Linked DNA regions of Homo sapiens: regions 1 and 3 are each linked to region 2. Evidence: fine-mapped expression QTL. A gene starts in region 2. Each other region holds a variant in brackets. All regions are shown on one strand. Distances are from middle to middle.

Evidence for each region. PIP is the estimated chance that this variant, and not a neighbour inherited with it, causes the effect.
Region 1: its variant is the best candidate, but not a certain one, in a credible set for the expression of CD1E in T cells (TOPMed, PIP 0.51).
Region 3: its variant is the best candidate, but not a certain one, in a credible set for the expression of CD1E in whole blood (INTERVAL, PIP 0.68).

The regions. Positions count from the first base shown.
Region 1 is chr1:158,374,954-158,385,660 of GRCh38, forward strand. No RefSeq gene overlaps it. Among named protein-coding and RNA genes, the nearest start is that of OR10T2, 19 kb to the right of the region's middle. The variant CTTTGAAAACATTG/C (reference allele first, on the strand shown) is at 5,193.
Region 2 is chr1:158,349,253-158,359,959 of GRCh38, forward strand. CD1E (CD1e molecule) reads left to right here and starts at 4,642. Exons shown (of 6, transcript NM_030893.4): 1 at 4,642-4,794; 2 at 5,125-5,421; 3 at 6,048-6,317; 4 at 6,575-6,853; 5 at 7,246-7,339; 6 at 7,476-8,301. The coding sequence starts at 4,737. The coding sequence ends at 7,644.
Region 3 is chr1:158,436,960-158,447,666 of GRCh38, forward strand. It overlaps the pseudogene OR10T1P. Among named protein-coding and RNA genes, the nearest start is that of OR10K2, 16 kb to the left of the region's middle. The variant A/C (reference allele first, on the strand shown) is at 5,274.

The sequences.
Region 1 (10,707 bases), 26 kb after region 2:
CAAAAAAAAAAAATGCTCAACTGAGTACTAAACCTGGAAGTGAAAGGAGCACATTTACCATCATGAAAACACACAAAAGTATAAAATACACTGGTAAAGCAATCATACAAAAGAGGAAGAGAAAGGACTCAAACGGTACCAATCTAGAAATCCACCAAACCACAATGACAAACAAGGAAAAAATAAAGGAATGAAGAATATACAAACCACCAGAAAATAATTTATAATGTGACAGGAATAAAGCCTCACATGTCAATGATAATTTTGAATTTAAATAGATTAAATTCTACACTTATGAGATATAGAATGGCTAAATGGATAAAATTACATAATCCAATTATATGCTGCTTACAAAAATCTCACCTTACTGGTAAATACACATAAAGATAGAAACTAAAAGAATGTAAAAAGATAAGCCACACAAATGGAAACCAAATACTAGTAGGAGAAGGTATTCTTATATCCAGTAAAACAAACTTTTAGTCAAGAACACTAGAAAAAGACAAATAATATAATGATAATCAATCCAGCAAGAAGATATAACAATTTTGAAAATATGTGCATGCAACATTGGATCACCCAGATCCATAAAGCCAATATTACTAAATCAGAAGGGAGAGATTTAGTGCAATACAATAATAGTGAAAACTTCAACCCCTGACTCTCAGCATTAAATATATCATATAGCAAGAAAATCAACAAAGAAACAATAGCTTTACATCAGACTTTAGGCCAATGGGCCTAAGAGATGTTTACAGAACAGGTCACCTGACTGCTGCAGAATACAGGTTCTTTTCATTAGCACATGGAATATTCTCCATGGTAGACCATATATTAGACCACAAAACAAGTCTCAACAAATTAAAAATAATCAAAATTATATCAAGCATCTTCTCATGCCACGTTGGAATGAAACCAGAAATCAATACTAAGATAAGCTTTGGAAACTATACAAATACACGAAAATTAAAGAACATGCTCCTGAATGACCACTGGGTCAATGAATAAATTAACATGGAAATAAAAAAATTTCTTGAAATAACTGAAAATGGAAACAGAACATACCAAAACCTGTGGGGCACAGCAAAAGTAGTATTGAGGGAAGTTTATAGCAAGAAATGTCCAAATCAAAAGAGTAGAAATATTACAAATTAATCAAGCAACACAACACAGAGAACTAAAAAAGATCTAATTAAACCCCAAATTAGCAGAACAAAAATAATAGAGATTAAAGCAAAATAAAATCAAATAGAGGCTGCCCAAAATACAGAAGACCAATGAAATGAAAAATTGCTTCTTTGAAAAGATAAGCAAAATGGGTAAACCACTAGATAGACTAACCAGGAAAAGAAGAGAGAAGATTCAAAGAAACAAAATCAAAAATGAAAATGGAGACATTAAAATGAATATCACAAAAATACAAAAGATCATCAGAGATTATTATGAACATCTATATGCTGACAAACAGGAAAACCTAGAGGAAATAGAGAATTCCTGGAAATACACAGGCAACTGAGATTGAATCAGGAAGAAATAGTAAACCAGAGTAGATCAATAATGAGTAGTAGATTGAATCAGGAATAAAAGATCTTCCAACAAAGAAAAACTGAATTGCATGGATTCGCAGCTGAATTGTGCCAAATGTAAAAAGAAGAACTAAAACCAATTTCTGCCATTATTCCAAAAAATTGAAGAGGAGAGAATTCTCCCTAGTCATTCAATGAGGCCAGCATCTCCCTGATACCCAAACTAGAAAAGGATACAACAAAAAACAAAACTATAGACCAATATCTCTAATGAACATAGTCATAAAAATTCTCAAGAACAAAACTAGCAAACAAAACTCAATAGCACATCCAAAAGGTAATCAAAAGTGGGTAATAAATTCCACTGCTATCAAGTGGGATTTATATCAGAGATGCAAAGTTAGTTCAACATACACAACTGAATAAACATGATACAACATATCAACAAACTGAAAACCATACAATCATCCCAGTAGATACAGAGAAATCATATGATAAAATTCAACACTCTTTTATGATAGAAACTCTCTACAAACCAAGCATAGAAGGAACTACCCCAAAATAATAAAAGCCGTATATGACAAACTCACAGGTAACATCATATTGAATGAAGAAAAGTTGAAAACATTCCAAGAACTTGAACAAGACAATGATGCCCATTTTCACAACTCCTATTCAACGTAGTACTAGAGGCCCTAGCCAGAGAAAATCAGGCAAGGAAAAGAAGTAAAAGGTATTCAAAATGGAAAAGAGGAAGTCAAATTGTTTCTCTTTGCTCTTAATATGATCTTATATCTGGAAAAACTTAAAGACTCCACCAAGAAACTCATTAGTTTGGTAAATACATTCAGTAATAACGCAGGATACAAAATGAAGATATGAAATTAGTAGCATTTCTATGCACCAATAATGATTTAACCAAGAAAGAAATCAAGAAAGCCACCCCATTTACAATAGCTAGAAAAACAATGAAATACTTAACAAATAACTTTAGCCAAGAAGGTGAAAGATCTCTACAGTGAAAACTCTAAAACGCTAATGAAAGAAATTGTAGGTGACACAAACAAATTGAAAAATATCCTATTTTCACATATCAGAAGGATTAATATCCTTAAAATAACCATATTGCCCCAAATAATCTACAGATTCAATGCAATCTTTGTGAAAATACAAATGTCATTCTTTATAGTATCAGAGAAAACAATCCTAACATTCATATGGATCCAAAAAAGAGCCTAAATTGCTGAAGCAAGCCTGACTGGAGGCATCACATTATGTGACTTCAAAATGTATCACAAGGCTATCATAATGAAAAACAGCATGAAATTTTTATAAATATATAAACACAGACCAGTGGAGCTAATAAAAAAACTCAGAACTAAAGGCATATGTTAATAGCAAACTAATCTTCTACAAACCTGACAAGAACTTACATTGGGGAAAAGACACCCTATTCAATAAATGGTGCTGAGAAAATTGGATAGCCACATGTGGAAAAATAAAACTGGATCACTGTCTCTCATCTTATTAAAACAACTCAAGATGGGGATTAAAGACTTAAACATAAACCCCAAAACTATAAAAATACTAGAGAAAACTCTCCTGTACATTGGTTTAGGCAAATAATTTATCACTAAGACCTTAAATGCACAGGTGACAAAAATAAAAATAGACACATGGGACTATATTAAACTAAAGAGATTCTGCATAGAAAAAGAAATAACAAAGTGTAGAGACAATCTGTTAAATGGGAGAAAATATTTGCAATCTACTCATCTGGCAGGGGACTAATATCCAGAATATACAAGGAACTCAAACAACTCAACAGGCAAAAGAAAATAATCTCATGAAAAAGTGGGCAAAGAACATGAATAGACATTTTTCAAAAGAAGACATACAAATGGGTAACAGGATTTGAAAAAAAAGTTTAACATCACCAATCACCAGAAAAATGCAAATCAAAACCGCAGTGGACACAATCTTATCCCATTCAGAATTGCTATTATTAAGAAGTAAAACAAACAAATAAAAAACAGATGTTGACAAAGATATGGAGAAAAAGGAACTCTCATATACTGCTGGTGGGAATGTAAACTAGCACTCGAGCTATGAAAACAATATGAAGATTTCTCAAAAAATAACAATAGAATTACTGTTCGATCTAGAAATCCCACTATGGGTATCTACCCAGAGGAATAGAAACCAATATATCAAAGGGATACATGAACTTGCATGTTTCTTGCAGCATTATTCACAATAGCTAAGATATGGAATCAACCTAAACATCCATCAATGGATGAATGGATAAAGAAAATGTGATATGTATACACAAAATGGAATACTGTTTGGCCCTGAAAAAGAATGATATTATGTCATTTGCAGCAAGATGGATGGAACTGGAGATCATCCTAAGTGAAATAATTCAGGCACAAAAAGACAAATATCACATGTTATCACTTATATCACTTATATCACTAAAAAATTTGATCACATTGAGATGGAGAGGGGAAAGATTGATGAGAGACTAGGAAGGGTGAGCTGGAGGAAGAAGCAGGATAAAGGGAGGAGTTCTAAAGGGTGCAAACATAACAGTAAGATAGAAGAAACAAATTCAATGTTTGATGGCAGGGTAGAGTGCTTATACTTAACATTTTTGTAACAAAAATGCTATAAAAATGTTTTATATTCAGGTGATCAACACCCTAAATACAAAACCTGTGGGGGACAGCAAAAGTAGTGTTGAGAGAAGTTTATAGCAAGAAATGTCTAAATCAAAAGAGTAGAAATATTACAAATTAATCAAGCAACACAACACAAAGAACCAAAAGAGATCTAATTAAACCCTAAATTAGCAGAACAAAAATAATAGAGATTAAAGCAAAATAAAATCAAATAGAGGCTGCCCAAAATACAGAAGACCATACAAATGGCTAATATGATTTGAAAAAAATGCTCAATGTCACTAATCACCAGATAAATGCAAATCAAAACCGTAATGGACACAATCTTATCCCATTCAGAATGGCTATTATTAAAAAGTAAAACAAACAAATAAACAAAAACAGATGTTGACAAAGATATGGAAAAAAAGGAACTCTCATATACTGCTGGTGGGAATGTAAACTAGCACGCACACTATGAAAACAATATGAAGATTTCTCAAAAAATAAAAATAAAATTACTGTTTGACCTAGAAATCCCACTACTGGGTATCTACTCAGAGGAATAGAAACTAATATGTCAAAGGGATACCTGAACTTGCATGTTTATTGCAGCATTATTCACAATAGCTAAGATATGGAATCAACCTAAACATCCATCAATGGACTTGATTACTATGCATTCTATACATGTAACAAAATTTCACATGTACCTCATACATATGTAGAAACAAAAAATATGGTGGCTAGATTTACAATTCTAAAATAATCATCGCCCAATCAGTGTATCCCTCACCCAGGAAATAAACTTTTCGTGTCTGGATTAATCTCTTAGCTACATGGAACTTTATTCTAAAATAATTTTTATCTCATAGAAAGTTGCCTATCATCTTGATTCGGAAAACATAACAGCTTTCTCTCTTAATTTCTCTATCTAAATTTGCCTGAAATTAGTAAATGTTTGAAGTGAACCGTGCCAGAAATGTAGACTTATATATGTGTTCTT[CTTTGAAAACATTG/C]TTGAGGGCTGCTTAATTTTGAATTAGGGGTAGGGATTCTCAACTTTCCATTTAAAAGGTGATCATTTGGAATAAAAGAAAACTGTTTATTTGGTCCTCACCTTGGTCTTGTTTTAAGAAATAGTATAACTCTCTGTAGGTCTTTATTTGCTTATTCATAAAATAAGGCCACCTGGTACATTATCTTTATCTTACAAACAAATACAAACAAAAAAAAAAACCCTTTCATTTTTCTGAGAGTAGAAATACAGGCCCTATGAACATGTGGTATTTATGCTGCGGTAAAAAAGCCATGCAATGTTTTTACTGTCAAGATACTGGGTTAATCTCTAATAATCCAGTTGTTGCTTCTGATTGGGTGCCAAATGTTTTGTTAGAAATTGTAGAGGGATTACAGAAAGGAGATAAGAAATCTCTGAGATCTAGAGACCTGAACCACATTACCAACCAACTTGACCTAGTTGACATAAACCTTCAATCTAACAACAGCAGAAAGCATAATCTTTTCAATAGCACAAGGAACATCACCAAGAAAGTCTATATTCCGAGTCATTAAACAAACCTTAATATATTTAAAAGGATTGAAATCATATGAAGAATGTTCTGTCACCATAATACAATTAAGCAAGAACACAAAAATAGGAAATGTTCTGGAAAACTCCATATATTTGGAAATGCAAATAACCGCTGAGTCAAAGAAAATTAAAATAAAAACTGGAAAGTATTTTGAGTTAGAAGAAATTGAAAATACAACATATACAATTTGTGAGATGCAGTTAATGCAATGCACAGAGCACAAATTATAGCTTTAAATAATTAAAATTTTAAAAAGCAATGTGTAAAATTAATAAGCTAAGCTTCTACCTTAAATAACTGGAAAAAAGAAGAACATATTAAATCCAAAACAAGTGGAAAGAAAAAAATAACAACAGGGGAAATAAATGAGTTAAAGATGTAAAAAATTAGAAAAGAATTATTTAAATCAAAAGATAACTCTTTTGAAAAATCATTAATACAGTTACATCTCTATCCAGGCAAAAAAGAGAAGACACAAGTTACTAATATCAGGAATGAAAGGGAGGAGATTGTACTATTCATGCAGATTTCATAAATATGATAAAAGTAATAAAACAACTTTATGCTGGTAAGTTCAGCAACTTAGATTAAAGAAATTTATTAAAAGAAACAACCTAGAGTCACTCAAAAATATATAGATAATCTACATAACCTTATATATCTTTGAAAAACGTGAATTTATAATTGAAATACCTAACACAATGAAACTATATGTCCAGATGGCTTTATTGTTGAATTCTACTAAATGTATAAGAAGAAATAATGCTAATTCATCACAATGTTTTCCAAAACGATAGAAGCGTAAAGAAAATTAAGATGAGTCATAGACTTAAGGGTAATAGATGAAATTATAAACTTTCTAAAGGAAAACATAGAAAAATTCGAGTGACTGAGTTAAGCAAAGATTTTTTTAGATAGTACACAAAAAAATAAGAGCCATTAAAATTTGATCTTCAGAAAACACTATTGAGAAGCAGAAAATGCAGAGCAGGGATGGGGAGAAAATATTTGTAAAACATATATATCTCATAAAGGATTAGTGGCCGAGGAATATTCTTTAAAAAACTCCTATATCTCGATAACAGGAAAAACAATTCAATAACAAAAACAGAGCAAAATATTTGAATACACTTTTTATCAAAGAAGATATGTAAGTGGCTCATAAGTTCATGAAAAGATGCTCATCATCATTAGTCAAATGCTAATTGAAACCACAATGAGGCATTACTACACAACCGCTAGAATGCTTAAAATAATAATAATAAAAAAACCCTGAAAGTACTGTCTTAGTGCAGGCTGCTACAACAAATAATCAAATACTGGGTGGCTTACAAAATATAGAAATTTATCTCCCAGAGTTCTAGAGACTGGAATTTCCAGATCCGAGTAGCAGCCTAGTCAGGTTCTGGTGAGGGTCCTCTTCTTTGCTGCAGACTGCCATCTTCTTGTAGTATCTTCACATAGTGTAATACTACGTGAGAGGGGCTCTGGTGGTCCCCTTTATAAGGACACTAATCTTGTTAATGAGGGCTCCACTCTTACGACCTAATTCCCTCCCAAAGGCCCCAGCTCCTAACACCATCACATTGAAGGTTAGGATTTCAAAATACAAACTTTGGGAAGAGACAAAAATTCAGTCTATTGAAGCACCAAGTGTTGAAGAGGATGTGGAACAAAAGGAGCTTTTGTACATCACTGATAAAATTGCAAAACGGTACAGCTATTTTTGAAACAGTTTTGAAAACAGTTTGGTAGTATTTTACAAAGTTAAACATACCTAGTACGTTATTGATTGATTTATTGTAAATGTGAATACATGTAACCTAGTAATCTCATTCCTAGTTATTTACTTAAGAGAAATAAAGACAATTTTCTTCACAAAGACTTGTATGTGAATATTCTCAGCAGCCTTATTTATAAGAGCCCCAAACTGGGAGCAATCCAAATGTCCTTTGACTGGTGAATTCAGAAATAAATTGTGTCATAATCATACAATAGAGTACTTCTCAGCCATAAAAAGATGGGGGAAAAAACGCTATTAATATACTCAACAAAATGGATGACTAACAAGAGCATTATGCTAAGTGAAATAACTCAGACACAAGACTGCATAATGTATTTCTATACTGCAATGCATATTTTTATTTATATGAAATTATAAAAAAAGACATGTTATAGTGACAGAAGATTAGTGCTTGCCTGGGGTCATGGATGGGGGAAAGGTTTGAGTGCTAAGTGTGCATGGAAACTTTTGGAGTGATGAAATTGAAATATCTTGAATGTGGTGTTGGTTACATGACTGTATCCACTTGTGAAAATTTGATCTTTACATTTAAAATGAATGAATTTGAATTTTATGTATTATTGCTAGCAATTCAAAAGAGTAGTTGGACTCTCAAAGTTAGACAAAGATCCCTTTCTTCTGGGTGAATTCCGCCCGTCTACTTAATAAGCAGATGTGATTATTCAATATTTGGGTAGGTGCAAATTAAGATTGATTTACAATAAAAATGTATCTGAAGAAAATTAAAAGGTATTACCTGTGCAATATTTTGAAGAATTTTTCTTCTCCTTTGTGTTTAGTGAGTGTATGATATTCTACTTTATTGTCATATAATTTATTTAAAATATATCCTGTTGTTATATTTAGTGTAGTATTGTTTGAAATTTACTTTAAAATATTTTACGTAGCACATCGTATTTGTAAATTAATCTTGAATTTACAACATAGAGACAGCTGTTCACCAAGTCAATCATTCTATTAAGGAATACTTCCAGCAGCTGTTAGTTAGCATTTTTAAACACCCTATTGAGGAGCTCCCATTCAAGAGGAAGATTAGGAAATGGCAAGAACTTTAAATATTGCTACCTAAATCTATACTAGATAATACATTGTTCTGCATCAAAGATGCTTGAAATAATTTTTAATATGTGAAATCACAGGTATATCAAAGTCTGAAGTCTAAAGATATCTACTCATACTTGTGGGATGCTGTAGGAGAATTAGAGAAGCCCAGGAACCTAACATCCTTCAGAATACTGCCCAAGGCTTAGGATTATTTTAGTTCCATATTTTACTATATAACAGGCTCTGTCTTCTAACCTGACCAGAGTTTGACTGACTATCAAGGATACTATATTGTCATATCTGCCTGGAGAGAACCCTTTAAACAGAGAACATAATAGAAAATTTACATATATTGACTTAAACAAAATATGTGTCCATTTCCTTCCATGAAAAAGATACATTCAGAGAGGGGCAGTTTATAACTTGTAGGACAGCTTTATGACATTTTTAGGGCTCAGGTTTATGATATTTTATTTTCTGAGAGACTTAACATGTGAATTCCTTCTCATGGTTTAAAAGAGACCACTGGTGTTTTGGCCATCACATCCACATTTTAGTTAGGGAGGTAGAGAAGATAAATATTATTCCCCCACCGCCACCACTTTAAAGACATTTTCTGGGGCATATGACATTTTCACTTACATTCCACACTTACAAGACATCTTAGTTACATTCTAGCTGCAAAGGAGCTGGGGAGTATCTTTATTTAGGTTAATCATTTGCCCATTAAAAATTGAGGATTTCCTTTACTAAGAAAGATAATAAATGGGACATTTTAGGACCAACTAGAAATCTAAGCCCTGATACATTATAACACAGAGTTATTTTAAAAAAGAACTTTAAACAAATGCAAATTAGAATCGAATTTTCTTATCATTGGTAAATGTTATAAACAAAAACTTATAGAAAAGGCCATATTTATTAAAGATTCTTTATATACCTATCATTCAATATTAAGAACTAGACAAGAATGGTTATTATTTTACTATTAACTCTAATATACCATTGAAAATCCTATGAAATATTTGGAGACAAGAAAAACAAGTGAAATATAAAGATTTGAAGAGAAATTAAAATGTTCATTATTATAGGACAGTATCGTCATTTGAAAGTTGTCAAATACAAGTAGTGGATAAACTATTGGCACTAAAATAATTCAGTAAATTTGTTGGACACTAAATGAACAAACAAAAGTGAAGTGCATTTCTTTATGTAATTAACTATTAATAGAAAGTAAAATCCAATATGGATATTACAAAAAGTAGCAATACAAACTATAAATTATCTAGAGATTAATTTAATAAATATTTTTTAATCACTATTAAATAATTATTGTCATATAAAAATATCTTAAATGGAAAAAATGGTTCACATTTTTGGATGACTGAATTTAATGTTATAAAAAGACTGACTTCCCTAAATTTCAGGTGACCAGTGTATGTGTGTGCTTGTGTGTAGGTGCTACTTGAAAATGTTAAGCCTAATTTGAAAAAGAAGACATAGTGAGCAAAGTTACTCTGTAAGGTACAAAGGATACTGCAAAGAAATGGCAATATAAAAAATGGAACGTCAAGCAGTGAAGAGCATCAGGAATCTGTGCTTTATAGTATTCAATGACATCCCATTCTGGCGTGGCCAGGGGAAATATAGTGCTACCTAAATTCCTAAAATTTAACTTTATTCATAGAAAAATATTCTAAAGGAAATACTGAACTTTCAGAAGAAAAAACCTGAGATAATTTTGGAGTTGAATTTGTGGGTAAAATAGCAAATTTTTTTTCTTTTTTTTTTATTATACTTTAAGTTTTAGGGTACATATGCATAACGTGCAGGTTAGTTACATATGTATACATATGCCATGTTGGTGTGCTGCACCCATTAACTCCATTAACTCGTCATTTAACATTAGGTATATGTCCTAATGCTATCCTCCCCCTGCCCCCCACCCCACAACAGGCCCCAGTGTGTGATGTTCCCCTTACTGTGTCCATGTGTTCTCATTGTTCAATTCCCACCTATGAGTGAGAACGTGCAGTGTTTGGTTTTCTGTTCTTGCAATAGTTTCCTGAGAATGATGG
Region 2 (10,707 bases):
CGGGGCCGGCAGGGCCGGCTGGCTGCTCCGAGTGCAGGCCCGCCAAGCCCACGCCCACCCTGCACTCCAGCTGGAACCGCCCGCAGCCCAGGTTCCCGCTCGCGCCTCTCCCTCCACACCTCCCTGCAAGCTGAGGGAGCCGGCTCCGGCCTTGGCCAGCCCAGAAAGGGGCTCCTACAGTGCAGCGGCGGGCTGAAAGGCTTCTCAAGTGCTGCCAAAGTGGGAGCCCAGGCAGAGGAGGCACCGAGAGCAAGCAAGGTCTGTGAGGACTGCCAGCACGCTGTCACCTCTCAATGCCACTGCACTCCAGCCTGGGTGACAGAGTGAGAATCCGTCTCAAAAAGAAAAAAAAAAGAAAAAATGTAACTATGTGAAGTGATGGATATGGTAATAACTTGACTGTGGCGATTACTTCACAGTATATACATATATCATAACATCATGTTGTGCACCTTAAGTATACCCAATTTAAAAAAAATTAAGGTAGAATATAAATATATAATTTATCATCTTCACCATTTTAAAATGTACAGCTCAGTGGCAATAAATACTTTTTTATACTCAATTTTTATTTGTTGGTTGTACCTCACTAAAGCTGAAAAATATATTTGAATAAATGTTAAAGAAATGTAAGTATACACAAACAAGAAAATAAGTATGTAGAAATTGCAATCTTTCCTGAAAATAAGCCAAAAGAATAAAACTCGTATTTAAATTCTTTGAAAAAAAATTAGCAGATGGAACATTTTCTTACATTTGTACAAATGTACTCAAAAATTTTATTTTAAATCAATTTTAATGAGTTATCTCCCATAAATTTCTTACATAGAAAGATTAAGTTGTCCAAAGGCACATCTTATAATATGTTTTGAGAGAATTTTCTGGTTTTGGCAAAAGGGGATCTGCGAATGTGACTGGGGCAGCCTCAGGAAAACATAAGAGGGGGAATTTCTTTTTAAAAGAGACCTCTGGCCACAGACACTAAGTATTTTTAGTAAAAAATGTGGTTAGGCACTGATGGAATATTTTTTTTTTTTTTTTTTTTGAGACGGAGTCTTTCTCTGTTGCCCAGGCTGGAGTGCAGTGGCACAATCTTGGCTCACTGCAACCTCTGCCTCCCAGGTTCAAGCGATTCTCTTGCCTCAGCTTCTCGAATAGCTGGGACCATAGGCACGTGCCACCACGCCCTGCTAATTTTTTTGTATTTTTAGTAGAGAGGGGTTTCACCGTGTTAGCCAGGATGGTCTCGATCTCCTGACCTCCTGATCTGCCTGCCTCGGCCTCCCAAAGTGCTGGGATTACAGGAGTGAGCCACTGTGCCTGGCCCACTGATGGAATTTTGTAAAGCAGGAAGGAAATAATTGTACCATATAATGTTACAAAAATTAAAATTAATATATATTTTTTCTTTGGAATTTATCTTCTGGATAATTTTAATTTAGAAGGAATTTCATTATTTTGTTAATGATTATGGGGTTGCTGTCAGACATTATTTCTACTTTGCTCAGTAATTTGCAGTTATCTGTGAGTTCTGTAGCCTCAAAATTAAAAACTAGGGTGTGGTTATCTTTACTTACATAAAAGTGCAATTTTTTGTGGAATAACAACATTGTTTTATTCTCTAAATATACTTTGCTTTATTTTACTTTGCAAATGATTTTAAAATTCTCCCTCTTTTTTTTTTTTTTGAAACAGAGTCACACTCTCCTGCCCAGGATGTAGTACAGTGGCACAATCTCAGTTCCCTGCAATCTCCACCTCCTAGGCTCAAGCAATTCTCCTGCCTCAGCCTCCTGAGTAGCTGGAATTACAGGCACACATCATGGCACCTGGCTAATTTTTACTTTTTTTGGTAGAGACAGGGTTTCGCCATGTTGGCAAGGCTGGTCTCGAATTCGCCTGCCTTGGCTTCCCAAAGTGCTGGGATTACGGGTGTGAGCCACCGTGCCTGGCCTGATTCAAAAATTCTAATGGCCGGGGCACGGTTGCTCACGCCTGTAATCTCAGCACTTTGGGAGGCCGAGGCGGGTGGATCACGAGGTCAGGAGATCGAGACCGTCTTGGTCAACATGAAGAAACCCTGTCTCTACTAAAAATACAAAAAATAGATGGTCATGGTGGCTCTTGCCTGTAATCCCAGCTGCTCAGGAGGCTGAGGCAGGAGAGTCGTTTGAACCAGGGATTCGGGGGTTGCAATGAGCCGAGATCCTGTGGCTGCACTGCAGCCTGGGCAACAGAGCAAGACAGCAAGACTCCGTCTCAGGAAAAAACAAAACAAAACAAAAATTCTAAGGAATACAGTTACTTGTAGTATTGATGTTTGGCATAGGTCATTCCAATCTTTTTATTATGTATTATTGTTTTTGTAGGTTATTATATATTCTCTTGAATATTTATCTTTGTTTACTGTTCATAATTTTATTATGAAACCAATTTTGGATTTACATAGCGATTTATAGATAGATTTACATAGCAACTTATAGCTTTGAATGTATTTGTAGAAAAGAAAGAGTATTGAAAATAAATGTAGACATTCTACTCAGGAAACAAGGAAACTTTTTTTAATCTTTCTTTAACCTTAGAATTTAGAAATGATAATAAGATGAAACTAGGTTTGGACCTTTTTCTTTTGTTTTTTTGTTTGCAGTTTTTTTTTCTTTTTTTAATTATTTTTATTTATTTATTTATTTTTTATTATTATACTTTAAGTTCTAGGGTACATGTGCACAACGTGAAGGTTTGTTACATATGTATACATGTGTCGTGTTGGTGTGCTGCACCCATTAACTCGTCATTTACATTAGGTATATCTCTTAATGCTATCCCTCCCCCCTCCCCCCACCCCACAACAGGCCCCGGTGTGTGATGTTCCTCTTCCTGTGTCCATGTGTTCTCATTGTTCAATTCCCACCTATGAGTGAGAACATGCGGTGTTTGGTTTTTTGTCCTTGTGATAGTTTGCTGAGAATGATGGTTTCCAGCTTCATCCATGTCCCTACAAAGGACATGAACTCATCATTTTTTATGGCTGCATAGTATTTCATGGTGTATATGTGCCACATTTTCTTAATCCAGTCTATCATTGTTGGACATTTGGGTTGGTTCCAAGTCTTTGTTATTGTGAATAGTGCCACAATAAACATACGTGTGCATGTGTCTTTATAGCAACATGATTTATAATCCTTTGTGTATATACCCAGTAATGGGATGGCTGGGTCAAATGGTATTTCTAGTTCTAGATCCCTGAGGAATCGCCACCCTGACTTCCACAATGGTTGAACTAGTTTACAGTCCCACCAACAGTGTAAAAGTGTTCCTATTTCTCCACATCCTCTCCAGCACCTCTCCAGCACAGAAAGAGTATTGAAAATAAATGTAGATATTCTACTCAGGAAACAAGGAAACTTTTTATCTTTCTTTTAACTTAGAATTTAGAAATGATAATAAGATGAAACTAGGTTTGGACCTTTTTCAATAATTCTGACCACCGTTCAGTAAATTTACTGTATAAGAAAAGTAGAGGTTTGGGGTTGAATTTTGTTTTATTTTTTCCCAAAGATGTCTATCTCTGATATCTTAGGGCCTGGCAATTGTTTTTGGTCATAGGTGGGCTCTGAATAAATGTCAGTTGAACAAATATATAAAAACCAAACAAAGGAATGTTATTTCAACTGCCTTCAGAGTGTCACAACAAATATCAATGAAAAAGAAACAAAAATAAAGACTCAATTAATTCTCCAGTGAACACTTCAGTCCTCTAAAGGTACTTCCCTGTGTCCACCCAAACTGCTCTCTAACCGAACGCAAGCAAGGGGACTCCAATGCTCTCAGGCCATGAACTAATGAGGAGCTTCATGCCTGCCCTCAGTCTTTCTTCATACCCAGGGCAAAGCTGGCCCACAGACTTCCAGACATGCTTTCTTCGTTTGGGTAGAGATGGGGATCCAAGTCCCCTATGTATTTCCTCCAGAGCCACCTGTAAAACATGGGTGAAATCTACCTGCCCTCTAGCTCACCACTTCCAGGTCAAGCCCACTCATGGACCACTTTAACAGTGACAGTTGGCTTGACTGGGGAAACTGAAAAAAAGGAGCTTTCTTTAGATTTTCTGATAATCTGCATTGCCATTGCTGCTCCTTTTTCAGCAGCACAGAGAGTTGGATTATGGAGGGTTGCCTGCTTATTATGCAGCTACATCCAGGATGCTGAGTGTCTTCTGATCATGATCAAGAGCAGAGTGAAGAGATACAGGCGGAGGAGAGGATCACAGAGAGGTAGAAGTGGGAGACTGGTGGATAGGTCACTAGGCACCACTGAGTGACTACCATCACTTCTCACAGATTAGATTATTGACAAGCCAAGTATGGATTTGATTTCTACAAGGCCAAAAGCTACTCCATCTTCTAGCCAGACCACAGACTTTGTTTTAAGCCAGGACTCGTTTTCCAGCAGTTAGTGCAATTAGGGAGGTTGGGAGGATGTACACAAGAGCAGGGAGAAAATCTGGAGCCAGACAGTGAGAGAGGCAGAGGGGAAATGAAAAACCCCGTGGGAGGCTGCAGCAAAGCGAGGCAGTGTGGCTTCTCTGACAGGGAAGTCAGCAGAGGGAGAGGTTTGTCTGTCTGTACAGCAAGGGAAGTCAGACGAGAGTGCAAGAGGGTGTGGAGAGGGGTACTGATATCTGAATTATTAGGGCAGGTGTCCTGCCAAGGAATCCCTCCTTTAACAGAGCTTCAATGCTGCTCCTGTTCCTCCTCTTCGAGGGTCTCTGCTGTCCTGGGGAAAATACAGCAGGTAAGAAGAGTGCAGGTGGAAAGATACCTATGGTAGGGCACCAGAGGGCTGAGAGGAAGCTCTGGGGAGGTCCTGGGGGAAGGGAGCAGTACTCTTCTAGGATGCCCTTGGAATATGCCTTTCAGGCTAGTTCCAGGCAGAGAATTCTTGCTCTCAGTCTCAGTTTTTGTCTCTGATTTTGGAGAAAGGAAGCTGGCCCCACAGGAAAAGGGTATTGGAGTATGTACAAGCTACCTAACTGTCTCTCATCTCTGGGTTCCTTTTTTCCCTTTGGCATCACTTTTCCCATCCCTTTACATTCTCTCTACTTGTCATTTCCCTCTCTCTCAGCTCCCCAGGCTCTACAATCCTATCATCTAGCAGCAGAGGAGCAGCTGTCCTTCCGCATGCTCCAAACTTCCTCCTTTGCCAACCACAGCTGGGCACACAGTGAGGGCTCAGGATGGCTGGGTGACCTGCAGACTCATGGCTGGGACACTGTCTTGGGCACCATCCGCTTTCTGAAGCCCTGGTCCCATGGAAACTTCAGCAAGCAGGAGCTGAAAAACTTACAGTCACTGTTCCAGTTATACTTCCATAGTTTTATCCAGATAGTGCAAGCTTCTGCTGGTCAATTTCAGCTTGAATGTAAGTTCGTTGCTCTAAGCTGATAATTTGCCTGGGAACACCAACTATTTTCCAAAGTGGAAGATAGTATATAGACTCTGACCATCATTTAACCTTACTAACCTTGTTCCCCACTCTCTGACTCCCACTCCCTCCTCTGCTTCACCCTTCACCACCACCCACACTCCACCATATACACAAAAGGGCCTGCATGTACATATCTCAACATGAATATAGCTTCATGTCTGGCTCTTTGGAATGATTGTCTCCTCTGGATCTTCTGCCCCTCATTCCTGCCCTCAGACTCAGCCTTTCTCAACCCTCTTTCTGCCCTTCTTTATCCTTTGCCTGAGTGTTGACATGGACTGGCCTGTACCTAACCACTTTCACGTGAATTATTTATGACCAATCTCCTATCTTCCTGATAGCCTTCCCATCTACCACTTTCCCATTAGTTATTTCAAAGTATCTTTATTATCTTCAAATTTTCTTCCCACAAATTTTCTTCCCCTTTGCCAGTAAACTCTAGTCTCCATATGATTTCCCAGCAAATTTTTCTTCCCTTGAATCTCTTTACTGTCTAAATTGTTTGTTTTTCTTCCTTGTCATTCTTTCCATAATGATCTCTCTTCCCTGTCCACTCTCAGACCCCTTCGAGATCCAGATATTAGCTGGCTGTAGAATGAATGCCCCACAAATCTTCTTAAATATGGCATATCAAGGGTCAGATTTCCTGAGTTTCCAAGGAATTTCCTGGGAGCCATCTCCAGGAGCAGGGATCCGGGCCCAGAACATCTGTAAAGTGCTCAATCGCTACCTAGATATTAAGGAAATACTGCAAAGCCTTCTTGGTCACACCTGCCCTCGATTTCTAGCGGGGCTCATGGAAGCAGGGGAGTCAGAACTGAAACGGAAAGGTGAGCCCAACTCTCTCTCTCCCCTCTTGTTCCTAGTACTATAACTCTCATATTTGAATTTGCCTCTCATCATCATTTTGAAAGACATAGTGAGAGACTAGAGAATGAGATGTGTGGGTTCAGGACTGTTTCTTAGACAAGAGAAAGAAGTGATTACTAAATCACTCTTAGTATTATTACAAAGGCACCTGAGTCTCTGAGCTCTGGCCTGGGGTGCCCTTCAAAATTCCATTTTTTTTCTATCTTCTTCTTCCTAGTGAAGCCAGAGGCCTGGCTGTCCTGTGGCCCCAGTCCTGGCCCTGGCCGTCTGCAGCTTGTGTGCCATGTCTCAGGATTCTACCCAAAGCCCGTGTGGGTGATGTGGATGCGGGGTGAGCAGGAGCAGCGGGGCACTCAGCGAGGGGACGTCCTGCCTAATGCTGACGAGACATGGTATCTCCGAGCAACCCTGGATGTGGCGGCTGGGGAGGCAGCTGGCCTGTCCTGTCGGGTGAAACACAGCAGTCTAGGGGGCCATGATCTAATCATCCATTGGGGTGAGAAACAGCTGAGGCTCTGCTGGGAAATAATGAAAATAGCCCTGGGGCTTTTGAGTGTGGGGCTGAGGAAATGGGTAGGAATGCTAGGTACAAGAAGGGTAAAACTGGGACAATCAAAATAAAGAAGGATAGAGTATGACAGTAGTTAAATTTTAAGAAAATGGAAGTAGAGAATTAGACATACTAACAGAAAAAGGAGGAGGAACTAGTGATTTAGTGGGAGAGGGTTGGGAGGAGATCACAGACAAAGGATCAGGAGGAATTGAAATGAGGGCTTTGGAAAACCCAGATGAAAATTCTAGGAAGGTCCCACCCTTGTGAAATGGGAAATCTCAGCTTGGTGGAATAGAGTATTTTAGGGTTGGTATTCTTATTCTATCCCCAACCAGGTGGATATTCCATCTTTCTCATCCTGATCTGTTTGACTGTGATAGTTACCCTGGTCATATTGGTTGTAGTTGACTCACGGTTAAAAAAACAGAGGTGAGCTTTTTCTTGTTCTTTGTTTCTTCAGCCTGTAATCAATTCATTCCTTTTTCCTCTATCTTCTTTTTTTTTTTCTCTGCCTTTCCCCTTTATTTCCTTTCTTTGAGATTAATATCCTCCTCTTTTCCCACAGTTCAAATAAGAACATTCTTTCTCCCCACACACCCAGCCCTGTCTTTCTCATGGGAGCCAACACTCAGGACACCAAGAATTCAAGACATCAGTTCTGCTTGGCACAAGTATCGTGGATCAAAAACAGAGTATTGAAGAAGTGGAAGACACGCCTAAACCAACTCTGGTGACATTTGCTTTACCTTATACATAAAATCCTTGTCTGCATCTTCTTAAACACCGTCCATGTCCCATAAGGGAAGCATGCTTTTATTTAAACAGTTTATACTAGCAAAGATACTGACCCCTTTAGGAATACTTTTTCCCCATCTTCCAGAGATTTTTTTTTTCCTGCTTTGGCTACATATCCATCATTGTTTATTTTTGAAACTATAATCCAGATACTTCTTTTTCATGGATTCCCGAGATCACCCAATTGATAGCTCTTCTGTACTCCCCAAATTGAACTGATCTTCACAAGCACATTCATCTCTTCCTACTCTGAACAGTAGTTATTTAGGTTTTTGCTCTTTTTTTTTTTTTAATCTCAGTTGCTTGAAAGTAGGATTTAGGTATTTGTGTCTGTATTCATGACCAAAAATCTTATCTGAATTCAGGGCCAGCTTCATAAGCATGTGACCTGTGCAGACACATGGAATCGTATGCTCTGCAAGAACCCATGCTAGATTTAATGCTCTGCTGTTGTCATCTTGGAATCCTTAGTCATTTTCAAACAAGAGATATTGTATTTTCATTTTTCACTGACCCCACAAATTATATAGCTGATTCAGTGTGAATGTAATATTTCTCAATAAATGCTGACTGAAATAAATTTGTTGTTAGATCAAGTGATGTTGTTTTACTCCATTCCCTCTCTGATATCTCTGCGTCATTTGACTGTGCTCTTGCTAAAACTCTTCCTCTCTCCCTTTGTCTCTCACCAGAGGTGAAGGAGGCAGATGAATGCCTCAGACTCCACAGTGATTGGAATGTTAATGAATCTTCAGGGATATTTAGGAAAATAATAACATAAGGGCTATCTCCTGTCAAAGTGAGGAGAGGTTTGAACTGGCATTCCTACTTCCCTGAGCCATGTGTATCTATGTGTGTCTTTGTGGATGTGCATATTCATGGGAGAAATTCATATTTTGAGCAATTAGAAGGAGGACATAGGGTTTGAGCCAGAGCTAAGGCAATGAAGCAAAAGAGTGATTGGATGCCAGTTAAGCTACATGCTTGTTTTTATTTATTAGTGTGGCTTATTATTGTTATTATTATTTACAGTTTGTTTTTCTTTAGTTTTTATATGGATTCTTACATTTACATAATTTACTTCATTTGAGATACATTTGGTTGAGCCTACTGGAGAGCAGGAATCTGGTAGAAGTGCAGTGTTTATATACATGTCCAGTCAACCCCTCCCTTGGATGGAATAATTGAGCAGATTGTGCATATTTCTTTTCTTTTTTTTTGAGATGGAGTCTCGATCTGTTGGCCAGGCTGGAGTGCAGTGGCTGGTGTCAGATCACTGCAAGCTCCACCTCCGGGGTTCATGCCGTTCTCCTGCCTCAGCCTCCCCAGTAGCTGGGACTACAGGCGCCTGTCACCACTCCCGGCTATTTTTTTTTTAATTTTTAGTAGAGACGGGGTTTCGCCATGTTAGCCAGGATGGTCTTGATCTCCTGACCTCGTGATCCACCCCCCTTGGCCTCCCAAAGTGCTGGGATTACAGGCGTGAGCCACCGCGCCCAGCCGGTTGTGCAGATTTTTTAGTGGAAGTTATAAACTTCATGCTGGGCATTTTCAAGTAATCAGCAAGGGTCCCATGATCACACATCCAGGCTGCACTCTTACTCATGAACAAGGTATGAGGCCAGCCTTTTCACTGTTGAGAGTCCATCACCTTCCATATGGCACATCCAATCAGTCTATCTAGAGTCAGGCCACTAGAATCGGGAGAGGAAGGTAGAATCTTAAAGGGTTGTTTGGAGCAACAAATGATGAAAGGGGTCAGGGTTCCATCACGTGGTATAACTCTACAGGGGAGGACCTCTATTAGAATGAAGAGGTTCAAGTAGGAACCTTTCCGTTTTTGGCACAAGGTGTGCGAAAGGCACAAGCTATACCTCTGGAGACAATAGATCTGGGCTGCCTGCACATATACATCCTTCTTCCCCATAAAATGACATAGAAGGATTAAAAAAAGAGCCAGAGGACAAATAATCATGTTATAAGAAGTATCAGCTCAACAGGACTTGAGGAAGTTTAAATATCAGTCCATAATAGTGTCAGAAAAGCTCTAGGTCTTCCCTGTACTGTGGTAAACCTTTGGGCTGGGTATTTTCATTATAACTCCTGGATGATGGTGTACTTAGGAGCAAAATATGTTGCTAAATTGCCCCCAAGACAGAGATGTTACCTAATACTATTAACAACTTCATTCTGGCTGAAACTCTGGGACATGGGACTTATTCTAGAAGACCAGTGTAGTTTTTTTCAATAGCTAAGTATACCAATTTCCATTCCCACCAGGTATAAAACAAAGAAGGTAATCTGCTTTACTGACAGTACACATCTGGAGCTTTCTGCATTCTGTTGTAAATACAAATACAGTAAGAATGAAAGTAGGTAGTTTTGGAAAAAGAGATGGAGGGGGTATTCTTGATGATTGCTAAATTTCTCTAGAAATAGCATTCATTGTTTGAGGGAGAATGCATTGGGACTGGTGGAATCAGAATATGCTGGGGCCAAAGCTCAGAAGAGTGCAGTAGCCACATGCCCCGGATAAACCATGACCTAACCTGTCTGCTATCTTCTATCTAATGAATGAGATAAGCTGAGGATATGGGAGACTTGATAAGTGGAGCAACATAAACTGAAACAGGGGTCCAGGCCTCCAAGTGTATCACCTACAAACAAAGAAAGATGCAGCACCTGCTCTGGAGCTTGTGTTCAGATGAGTAGGTATAGTTAAGGGCACATGACTCCTTCTTCAGGTTATGCATAGAAGGTACCTATAGATTTTTGAAACTTAGACTTTACTCTTAAGGAATTAGAACTAGTTCATAATCTTTCCTCATTAACCATTTTCTCACTCTCACTTCCTTATGTAAATGGTTCCATTATCTTACTAGTTTCTCAAGATCCAAACTTTCTTCTGTTTGCTTCATTATTCTTCCTGAATAGCAAGTTACCAAAGCCTTCTTTATAAGTTTTCTTATGTTCCATTCCCTCTTCCTTGATCCTGCCCCACG
Region 3 (10,707 bases), 88 kb after region 2:
CTTGTGTTTGGAAGTGGTGTGTTACACAGCAAAAGGTAAATAAAAGTATATACATGTTCTAGTATACTATTCTCTGCCAAATAGTTTTTCAAAGTGGCTGTATAAATTTACACTCATGCCAGCATTGTATGGAAATTCCAGTTGCTTCTCATCTGTAACATTTGCTATTGCAACTCATTTTTATTTGAGAAATTCTGATGAGTATGTGTAATTAGACTTTCCTTTTCATGATATTAGTGACATTGAGCACATTTTCATGTTTACCAGCCACCTGAATTTCCTCTTTCTTGAAAGTCTTGTTTGATATTTTGTGCACTATAGGGATATTCATTTTTATTATTGATCCAAAATATTTTATATGATATCAATACTTTATTGATTACATGTACTTCAAATATTTTGTGTGACTTTGTAAATTTCATTTTCACTCAGTTGAAGATGTCTTTTGATGAACATGTTTACCTATTGTTTAGCTGTCACTTATAAGTAAGAACATGTGGTATTTGACTTAGACTTTTGTTCTCTTTGACTTTTTAAACAAAAGATTACTTCTGTACTCTTTGACTTCTTGTATTTTCATATTTCGTATTCCTAGGCATAGTAATTCTTTCTGCTGACATACAGAAATAGAATTTATTTTTGTATTACCAGCTTTGTATAAGGCAATCATGTAAATACATTTCATTTTTAATTCTTATATTTATCTGCCTATTCTCATGTAATTTTGTTTTTGTATCTCTGTACTGTTTATGTATTTATTAAGGTACAATTGACAGAAATTATATATATATATATTTCATATCCAATGTGAAGTTTTGATATACAAATACATTTTTCAATAATTGGTACAATCAAACTAATCAATATACCTGTCACCTCACATAGTTACCTTTTTTTCATGTGTGTGTGGTGAGAATACTTACTGTCAACAACTTTTCAAGTATAAAATACATTATTGACCGTAGTCAACATTCTGTACATTAAAATATCTAAAGCTTATGTATCTTATAACTGAAAGTTCGTAACTTTTGACCAAAATGTTCTCATTTCCCCCACCTCCTTGCCTCTAGCAACCACCCTTCTACTCTGCTCTTATAAGTTTGAATATTTTAGATTCCACATATAAGTTAGATCATGCAGTATTTATCTTTCTTTGCTTGATTTATTGTACTTAGCAAAATGTCCTCTAGGTTCATCCACGTTGTTGTAAATGGCAGAATTTCCTTCTTTTTAAAGGCTGAATGGTATTCTATTGTATAAAAGTATATACCACATCTACTTTAGCCCTTTGTCTATTGAAGGACATTTCATTGTTTCATATCTTAACTATTGTAAATAATGTTGCAATGAACATGGGAATTCCGATCTCTCTTTGAGATAGTGATTTTATTTTCATTGGATATATACTCAGAAGTGGTACTGCTACATCATATGGTGGTTTTATTTTTAATTTTTTGAGGACATTCTATACTGTTTTCTTTAATGGCTATACCAATTTACTTTGCCACTAACAATATACAGGGGTTCCCTTTTTTTTGCATTCTTTCCAACACTTGTTATCTTTTGATTTTTTGACAATAGCCATTCTAACAGGCGTGAGGTAACATATCATTGTGGTCATCTGCATTTCCCTGATTAGTCATGTTGAACACCATTTCATATACCTTTTGGCCATTTGTTTGTCTTCTTTGGAAAAATATGTCTACTCAGATCCTTTAGCCATTTTAAAATGACATTGTTTATTTGTATTTCTGTAGAGCGATATGAGTTCCTTATGTATTTTGGATATTAACCCTGTATCAGATTTATGGATTACAAATATGTTTTCTCCTTCTGTAGTTTGCCTTTTCATCTTGTTGAGTATTTCTTTTTCTGTGTCCTTAACAAATTAAGGATAGAAGAAATGTACCTTAGTACAATATAGGTCATATATGGCAAGCTCACAGCTAACATTATACTGCATAATAAAACCTTTTCTTCTAAATCTGGAACAAGACAAGGATGTCCACTCTCGTCAGTTCTACTCAACCTAGTGCTGAAAGTCTTAGCCAGAGCAATTACGGAAGGAAAAGCAATAAAAGTCATCCAAATCAGAAATAAAGAAGTAAAATTATTTCTGTTTGAAAATTACATAGTATTATATCTAGAAAATAAAAACTTCACCAGAAAACTATTAATATCAAAAAATGAATTCAGTAAAGTTGCAAGGTACAAAATCGACATATGTAAGTCATTCTACCAAAAAGACACATGAACTTGCATGTTCATTGCCATGCTATTCACAATAGCAAAGACATGGACTAAACCTAAATGTCTATCAGTGTTGAACTGGATAAAGAAAATGTGGTACATATACACCATAGAATGCTATGCAGCCACAAATAGAAGGAAATAATATCCTTTGCATGATAGATGTCCTTTGCAACAACATAGATGCAGCTAGAAGTCATAATCCTAAGCAAATTAATTTAGGAACAGAAAACCAAATACTGCATGTTCTCTCTTATAAGTGGGAGCTAAAATATTGAACACACATGGACATAACATGGAACAATATTCACTGAGAGCTACATATCCAAACATGGGATCAATATTCACTGTAAACTACTAGAGGAGGAAGTGAAAAGGGGGGTCATGAGTTTAAAAACTTCCTATTGATTACTATGCTCACTAGCTGGGTGATGGGATCTGTACTCCAAAGCTCAGCATCACACAGTATACTCATGTAACAAACCTGCACATGTACTACATTTATCTAAAATTAAGAAAAAAGAAATGTTAAAAATCAGTTGCATTTCTGTATATTAACAGCAAACTATCTGAGAAAAAAATTAAAAATGCCATAAGAAGAATGCAATATTTAAAAATAAATTTAAGGAGATTAAAAATCTATAAACTGAAATGTATAAAACATTGATGGAAAAAATTGAGGAAGAAAAAACAAATGGAAAGACATCCTATGCTTATGGACTGGAAGAATTAATATTGTCAAAATGTCCATATTACCCAAAGTGATCTACAGATTCAATGAAACTGTTATCAAAATTCCAATGGCATTTTTCACAGAAATAGAAAAAGAATTCTAAAATTTATATGGAACCAGAAAAAGATTCTAAATAGCTAAAGAAATCTTGAGCAAAAAGAACAAAGCTGGAAGAATCACTCTTCCTGATTTCCATTTATATTATAAAGCTATAGTAGTCAAAACTGTGTGGTACTCTCATAAAAGCAGACACATTCATCACTGAAACACAATAGAAAGCCCAGAAATAAATCCAGACATCTGTGGTTAATTGATCTTTGTCAAGGGTGTGAAGAATACACAATGGGGAAAGGGCAGTCTCTTCAAAAAATGGTGCTAGGAATATGAGATCTCCACATGCAAAATAATGAAAACTGACTTTTATACTATACACAAAAAATCAACTCAAAATTGATTAAAGGCTTAAATGTCAGACTTAATTAAGGGCATAAACTGTAAAACTTCTAGAAGAAAAGATAGGGAAAAGTTCCATGACATTGGCTATGGCAGTGGTATTTTGGATACGATACCAAAAGTAAAGACAATGAAAGCAAAAATAAGAAACTGGGACTACATGGAACTAAATGGTTTCTGAACAGCAAAGAAAACAATCAGCGGTGGGGTGTGGTGGCTCACACCAGTAATCCCAGCACTTTGGGAGGCCAAGGTGGGTGGATCACCTGAGGTCAGGAGTTTGAGACCATCCAGGCCAACATGGTGAAACCTGGTCTCTACTAAAAATACAAAAATAAGCTTGGTGTGGTGTCAGGCACCTGTAATCCCAGTTACTTGGGAGGCTGAGGCAGGAGAATCACTTGAACCTGGGAGGGGGAAGTTGCTGTGAACTGAGATTGCGCCATTGCACTCCAGTCTGGGCATCAAGAGTGAAACTCTGTCTTCAAACAAAAAAAAAAAAAAAAAAAAGAAGAAGAAGAAAACAATCAGAATATTATTAGGTAATTTCTATGTTACAAACAAACTACTACTCTTTTGTGTGTTTTCCTTATATTAAGAAATAACTCTAATAAAATATTGAATAGAAGCAGAGATAATGGGCACTATTGTCTCATTGCTGATATTAATGAAAAAATTTCCTCTATTTCATCAGTAAGTTTATTTATTATAGATTTTCAAAGATACTCTCAAATTAAGACAGTTTCTACTATTTTCAGTTTTATGTTTTCTCAGTTATATTTGCATGTTTAAATTAGAGATATTTTTCTGCATGTATTGATACAATAATATTCTATATAGAATTTATAATCTGTACCTATCCACTGTATGGCCTATCATCCATCTATCTGTTGATGCATCTAGCAATCATCAAAAAGTCAATCTATTTTTCTTTTTTTTGTTTTATATATATGGTAACTTTAACATGTAAAATATATTAAGCCAAGCCACAGTTGGATAAAACCTACTTTTTCACATCAATGAATTCAATCTGACCTGTTTTGTTTTGTTTTGTTTTTGAGACAGCGTCTCTATCACCCAGGCTGGAATGCAGTGGTGCCTTCTCAGCTCACTGCCGCCTCGACCTCCTGGAACCACGTGATCCTTCCTCCTCATTGCCACCCAGTAGCTGGGATTACATGCATGTGCCACCACATTCTTTCTACAGACAGGGTTTCTCCATGTTGCCCAACCTGGTCTCAAACTCCTGGGCTCAAGTGATCCACCCACCTCCGCCTTCCGACATGCTGAGATTTCAGGCGTGAGCCATGGCACCTGGCCCAATCTGACCTCTTTAACTTAACCTACAAAAGCTCTTCCCAATAGGTTTACATTTTCTGCCTTAACTTTATTAACTTCTGTCACTCCAGAGGTCTATTTTCAGGCACATGAGACACTTAAATTTACTCATCTAGGCGATGAGTTCTTTCTTTGCATCTGTGTACACAATGCAAAGTGCCTGAAACACTCTTTAACTTCTTAGTTTTTACTTGTTTTTCAAGTTTAAATTTAAGTGTCACTTACTCTGAGAAGTCTTTCTCGATTCTCCACAATTCAGTTAGGTCCTTATACTATATTCAGCCTCTGAATCACAGTTAATTATTTATTACACCGCAATGTAATTGTCTCTATTTGTCTGCAATATTTTTCCTTTCTTTGTCTTATTTACTCTCACCGTGTCTAGTGAGTGATACATGCCAAGTAGGTAATTGTTAGATAAATAAATGAAGAAGAACATAGACTATATTAGAACATAGAATAAGTATTTTCTGTCTTCCTTTTTTAGAGATGGATCGTA[A/C]TGTGTTGCCCAGGCTGGCCTTGAACTTCTGGGCTCAAGCAACCTTTCCTGTTTGAGCCTCTGGAGTAACTGGGAGAACAGGCACAGGACACCCTACCTGCTTTAGAATAAGTCTTCAATCACTATTAAATTAAATCAGTATTAAAAGAACCATTAAAGATGCAGAAAAAAGTCCATTCAGTTTTGTGATAATTTTTATCTACAGATAAATTAGAGAACCTTGGATTACCCAACATTTATTTTCATTTATTAATTTAAAAATGATTTTGAAAGCCTAGTATACGCCAGGTGTAGCTATCATTAATATCACCATCACCATCATGGTCATCCTCAAATGCAAATTCAGTACCAGTTGTGTTATTCTCTGAAAAAAATGGCAAGCCATCTAAGCATTCAGGGTTTAAAACAAATTTATGAACACTCTCACATCTGTAGCAAACAAAGAAGTATATATATCATATGCAAATCAGAGGGAAGTACATTTTACAGATGTGTGTTTGTCTGGGTGTGTGTTGAGTAGGTGGACTTGAGGAAAAGTGGTGTTCTGGGAATTCTGAGGTGACAGGGAATGAAGATGAAAGTTGCCTCTCACTCTCTTCAGCTTAACCTTTCCTATAGTAGAAACAATCACAGAAACCCCAAACTACTCTCATCAATGGGTGGTGTCAACAAACAAAGCTCAAATCCTTGAATTAAAAAAAATCTAAAATAAATGATCGTGTCCTAATTTAGCTGTCTTAATCAAAGAAATGTCCTAAGGAGGTTTTAATAATCATATTCCGATAAACTAAGAATACATTAGCAACTCAGTTTTATCCTTGGGACACTCATTGCCAAACTATTGGGTGTGGCACGTAAAAAATGCTAAAGGTAGCATTTTTTTCCAGGTAGTAAAAAAAAATCATGTTAGCATTTAGTAAATTCAACTAAGGCTTCTATCACTCTTTTATTTATTTGTTTTCTTTTTCTCCCTTCTTTCAATCCTAGCTTTTTTTCTTCTTCCTTCTCCTTATATTCTGCATTCTAATGTCTTTCTTTATCTCTCAACATTACATATAGCATACAAATAATAATTAAAATATATCAAATACATACGTTTCAAACTGTGTGTTAATTAAGGAATTTCCCCATTTAATTCTTACAGCAACCCTATTTTGATCACTTTCAATGTATGGTGTTTAAGTTATTGTTTCATACTTACAAGTATGTGAAGAAACCTCCTTCTAAATCCACATAATCTATTTCCCAAGCAAGAGTTATTAAACTGCATGTTGCTCAAGTGAAAAGCTAAGAAATGAAATTTTTTTGATATTAACATAATTCCATTGTTTTATTGAAACACAGCTTTAGCAAAAGCCACAGTAAACTCATTCAAATGTATATGATGCACCTATATTGGGTGACTAAAATTTGACCCTTTCTTTCAGTGAGGCATGAGGAAAAGAAGGGACTGTGCTTTACTCTTCATTGTACTCACTACAGTGCTTGTTTCAATGCCTTGCATATGGTAGCAGGTGCATAAACAGTGCAGGGCTCTTGAATGGTCAACTTACTTTTACACTTTATCTGACATAGAGTCTAACCCTAGATTATAGAATAAAGAAAGGAAAATGAAAGAGAAGTAAAAACAGAAGCAATTTTTCAATACCTTCTCTCAGGCAAGCATGGAATTGTTTTACATCTATTAATTTAACTAGATTTTGCAGTGGCCCACTGAGGAGGTATTAAAGGTCCTTTGTTACATAATAAATAACTAAAAATAAAAGAAGTTAAACCTGGCACAAGGGGCTTAGCTGGAAAATGATCCAAATAAAGATTAAAATCCAGGTCTTTGTGACTCCAAAGTCTGTGTTTTCTATTCTATCATCGACCTCTTAGAACTTTACCACCACCCCCCTCATTTTTCCAGAAGCAAATTTATGTTCATTATTTAGAAACAATTTACTGCATATATTTCTTTTTAAACATATATATATATATAATATATGTGTGTATATATATGCATATGTAGATCAGGGGATAGAGAAGAATCAGGAGACATGAATAGTGACATACCCCAATTTAAAGATAACTGAAGTAATTTATCTTTATTTTTGCAAGTTATTTATATTCTTTGTATTACTATGTGCAAAGAAGGTTTGTACAGTAAAGTCAAACTATGATGTGAGCTCATCTCATTGAATATTGTCATTTTATGGAAGAACAAAATGAGGCTCAAAAAGATTAAACCATTTGCTTTAACCCATTTCCCGTTTGCCCTGAGAATTCCATAATGGCACAGAACTGCACTTTTTTTTTTCCTAAATGGGAAGTGGGTTAAACTTTATATAAATATACACACACATGTATATATATATACATTCATATATATATACACACATATGTAGGTATGTGTATGTATATATAAGTTTAATAAAGAAATAACTGCAGTAAATTATTTCTAGAATATGTTGTTTCTTTCACTGTAAAAGGAGTATCAACAATCTGGGAATTCTCAAAAAGATAATGCAGCATTTGTAGTTTTGATCTGACAAAGCAAACACTTGTAATGCATAAAAACAATGTAGCTTGTGTTATTGAAAGTTTCAATGTTCACATAATTTTCTGGAGACCAATTGGTATAACTTTTGCAGTGGATACAGGCTAACATGAAAAAAATTTTTTGATATAAACAATCAAGGTCACCTAAAGTCCTTATTTCTTTTCTTTTCTCTCTCTCTCTCTTTTTTTTTTTTTTTTTTGTCAAGGAGTCTTAAGAAAAGGACGAATCTGTTTATAGATCTGAAGTGCTACCTAGGAAACTTTCATGAATGTAATTTACTGCCTTATCAGCCCACTCATACAGTTTTGGAATTTAAGCATCTACCCAGAACCTTTCTCAGAGCCATCTTTACTTCTTTATTTCTCAGTGTATAGACAAGGGGGTTGAGTAGTGGAGTAATCACAGTATAAGTCACTGCCACGAGCCGGTCCTTATCTGAAGAGTACAGGGATGTGGGCCTCAAGTAGATAAAGGAAGCACAGCCATAGTGGACGACGACCACTGTGAGGTGGGAAGCACAGGTGGCGAAGGCTTTGCACTGTCCTTCCACTGAGGAGATCTTGAGGATGGTGGAAACTATGAAGATGTAGGAGATGAATATCAACACAAGGGGAACCAGCAATACCAGAATGCTGAGGAAAAAGATGACCATCTCCTTCAGGTTGGTGTCTGTGCAGCCCAGTTTTATGACAGGGGAAATGTCACAGAAAAAGTGGTTGATCCGATTGGAGGCACAGAGGAGCACACTGAACACCAGGATATTGACAATCACAGAAGTCAGGAAGCCACAAAAGCTGGAGGCTAGAACCAGCTGCATGCAGGTGGCTCAGCTGACAATGAGTGTGTAGTTAAGGGGGTTGCAGATGGCAACATAGCGATCGTAGCCCATCACAGCAATGAGAAAACAGTTGGTACAAGCCAAGCCCACAAATAAATAGAGCTGGACCACACATCCAGAGAAAGAAATAGTTGGAATTGCGGATAGCAGGTTGGTAAGCATTTTGGGTACAATGACCAAGGTGTAGCAGGTTTCAGAACATGAAAGGACAAAGAGGAAGAAGTACATAGGAGTGTGCAAAGCCCTGTCCAGGTGAATGACTGTCATGATGGTGGTGTTGGCCATCAGAGTGGTCAGGTAGACTAATAGGAAGATAAAGAAGAGAAGGATCTGCAGATCCCCCAGGTTTGAGAAGCCTATAAGGATGAACTCGGTGATCATGCTCTGGTTCTGTCTTTTCATTGGTCAGTGTAATTAGACTTAGGTAACCTGAAATTGAGAAGGAGAGAATTTGATAAAAGTGAAATGACCCTAGAGATACTCATTTCGCGTTTCTGTAAAAAGCTGATAATACTGGTCTGAAAAAATACATAACACACATTAAGTACATAGATCAGAGTATAGGGAAGGGTCAAGGGACATGAATAGTGACATATCCCAATTCAAAGATATCTGAAATTATTTATTTTTATTTTTGTAAGTTATTTCCATTCTCTGTATTCCTATGTGCCTAGAAAGTTCATACTGTAAAATCAAAATGTGATTTAGACCTCATCTCATTAAGTACTCTCATTTTATGGAAGAAGAAAATGAGGCTCAATAAGATTAAACCATTTGCTTACCCACATGACAGTAACAGTCCTTAAAAATCACCTATCTTTGCTAATACCTTATAAAAATCTGATTCAGAAAAACAAACAAAACAAGTAAAAAGTGATGTACCCAGTCTCTCATATACATAACTCAAATAATGCTTGTTCAGATGTAGGGAACTATTTTAATCTACTTAAAAGTATTCAGATTCTATTTACCCATGATCAATTGTGAAGACTTTGGGATGGCTCACATATTGGGGTTTCCCTTGTCATCAGTGCATGGGAATCTGAGATTAAGAACCTAATAAAGCTCAAATTAACCTCAGAGCATTATGAGGCTTGGGCTGAGATCTCCACTCTTCTGGCCTATGCCTCAATCTCCATTGCCTCCATAATGTTCTAAGAAGAACTTTCATCATTATCTGTAAGAAGATCTGTGGTTTGATTTGGAGATCAAATAAATGCTAAAACCTTCATATCAGACTTAGACAATCAGATTATTTTCATTTTGGAAAAAAGATCAGAAATCTTCTAACTCAACCTGCATACAATTCTGTGAACCTCTTTATAGCAATGTAGGAAGTATTGTCCAACGTCCACAGTCAAGGACAAATTTTAAGAAGTCACTCACTTCCAAAACAGGCTGTTGTTCCCTTGCTAGATAGTTTATTTGGCTACTTCTGAGCTGAACTATGCCTCCTTGAAATAGTCACCCATTGTTCTTGATTTGTCCTCTGCAGATACTCACAATAATGTTAAATTATTTGTATGAATGACAGCTAGCCTTTAGTTATTGAAATAAAATGATCATATATCTTTATGGGTCTTATTTTCCTTCTAACGAATTATTTAATACATAGCTTATGGCAATGTTTCTGGAATTTTCTCTGTCCTCATCACCATCTTAGGTGTGTTTGTCCTCAACATTAGGTCACGCATCTGCCCCTCAGCTGTAGACAAGCTGGTTGGCTGCAGCATCAAACATAACTAACTTTGTCTCTCTGCTTCTACACATAACATTACATTTTCTTTCCTACTTTTGTTATCCCTCAGAATTAATATTTGTCTTTCCTACAAAACCTCAACTCATTATTCATCTCCTGAGAGGCTTCCCTATGTAGCTCTCAATGACTGAATCCTGTTTGAATTCACTTCCCTGTCAGTTTGCTCTGAGATCATTTGTTAGAATGGCAGCATAGTGAGGCTGGATGGACTGAGGCTCTGGAGTCAGACTGCCTAGGTTGAGACCATGGCTCTGCCAATGTACAATGTTGGGGAAATCACTTTGGGTCTCATGAT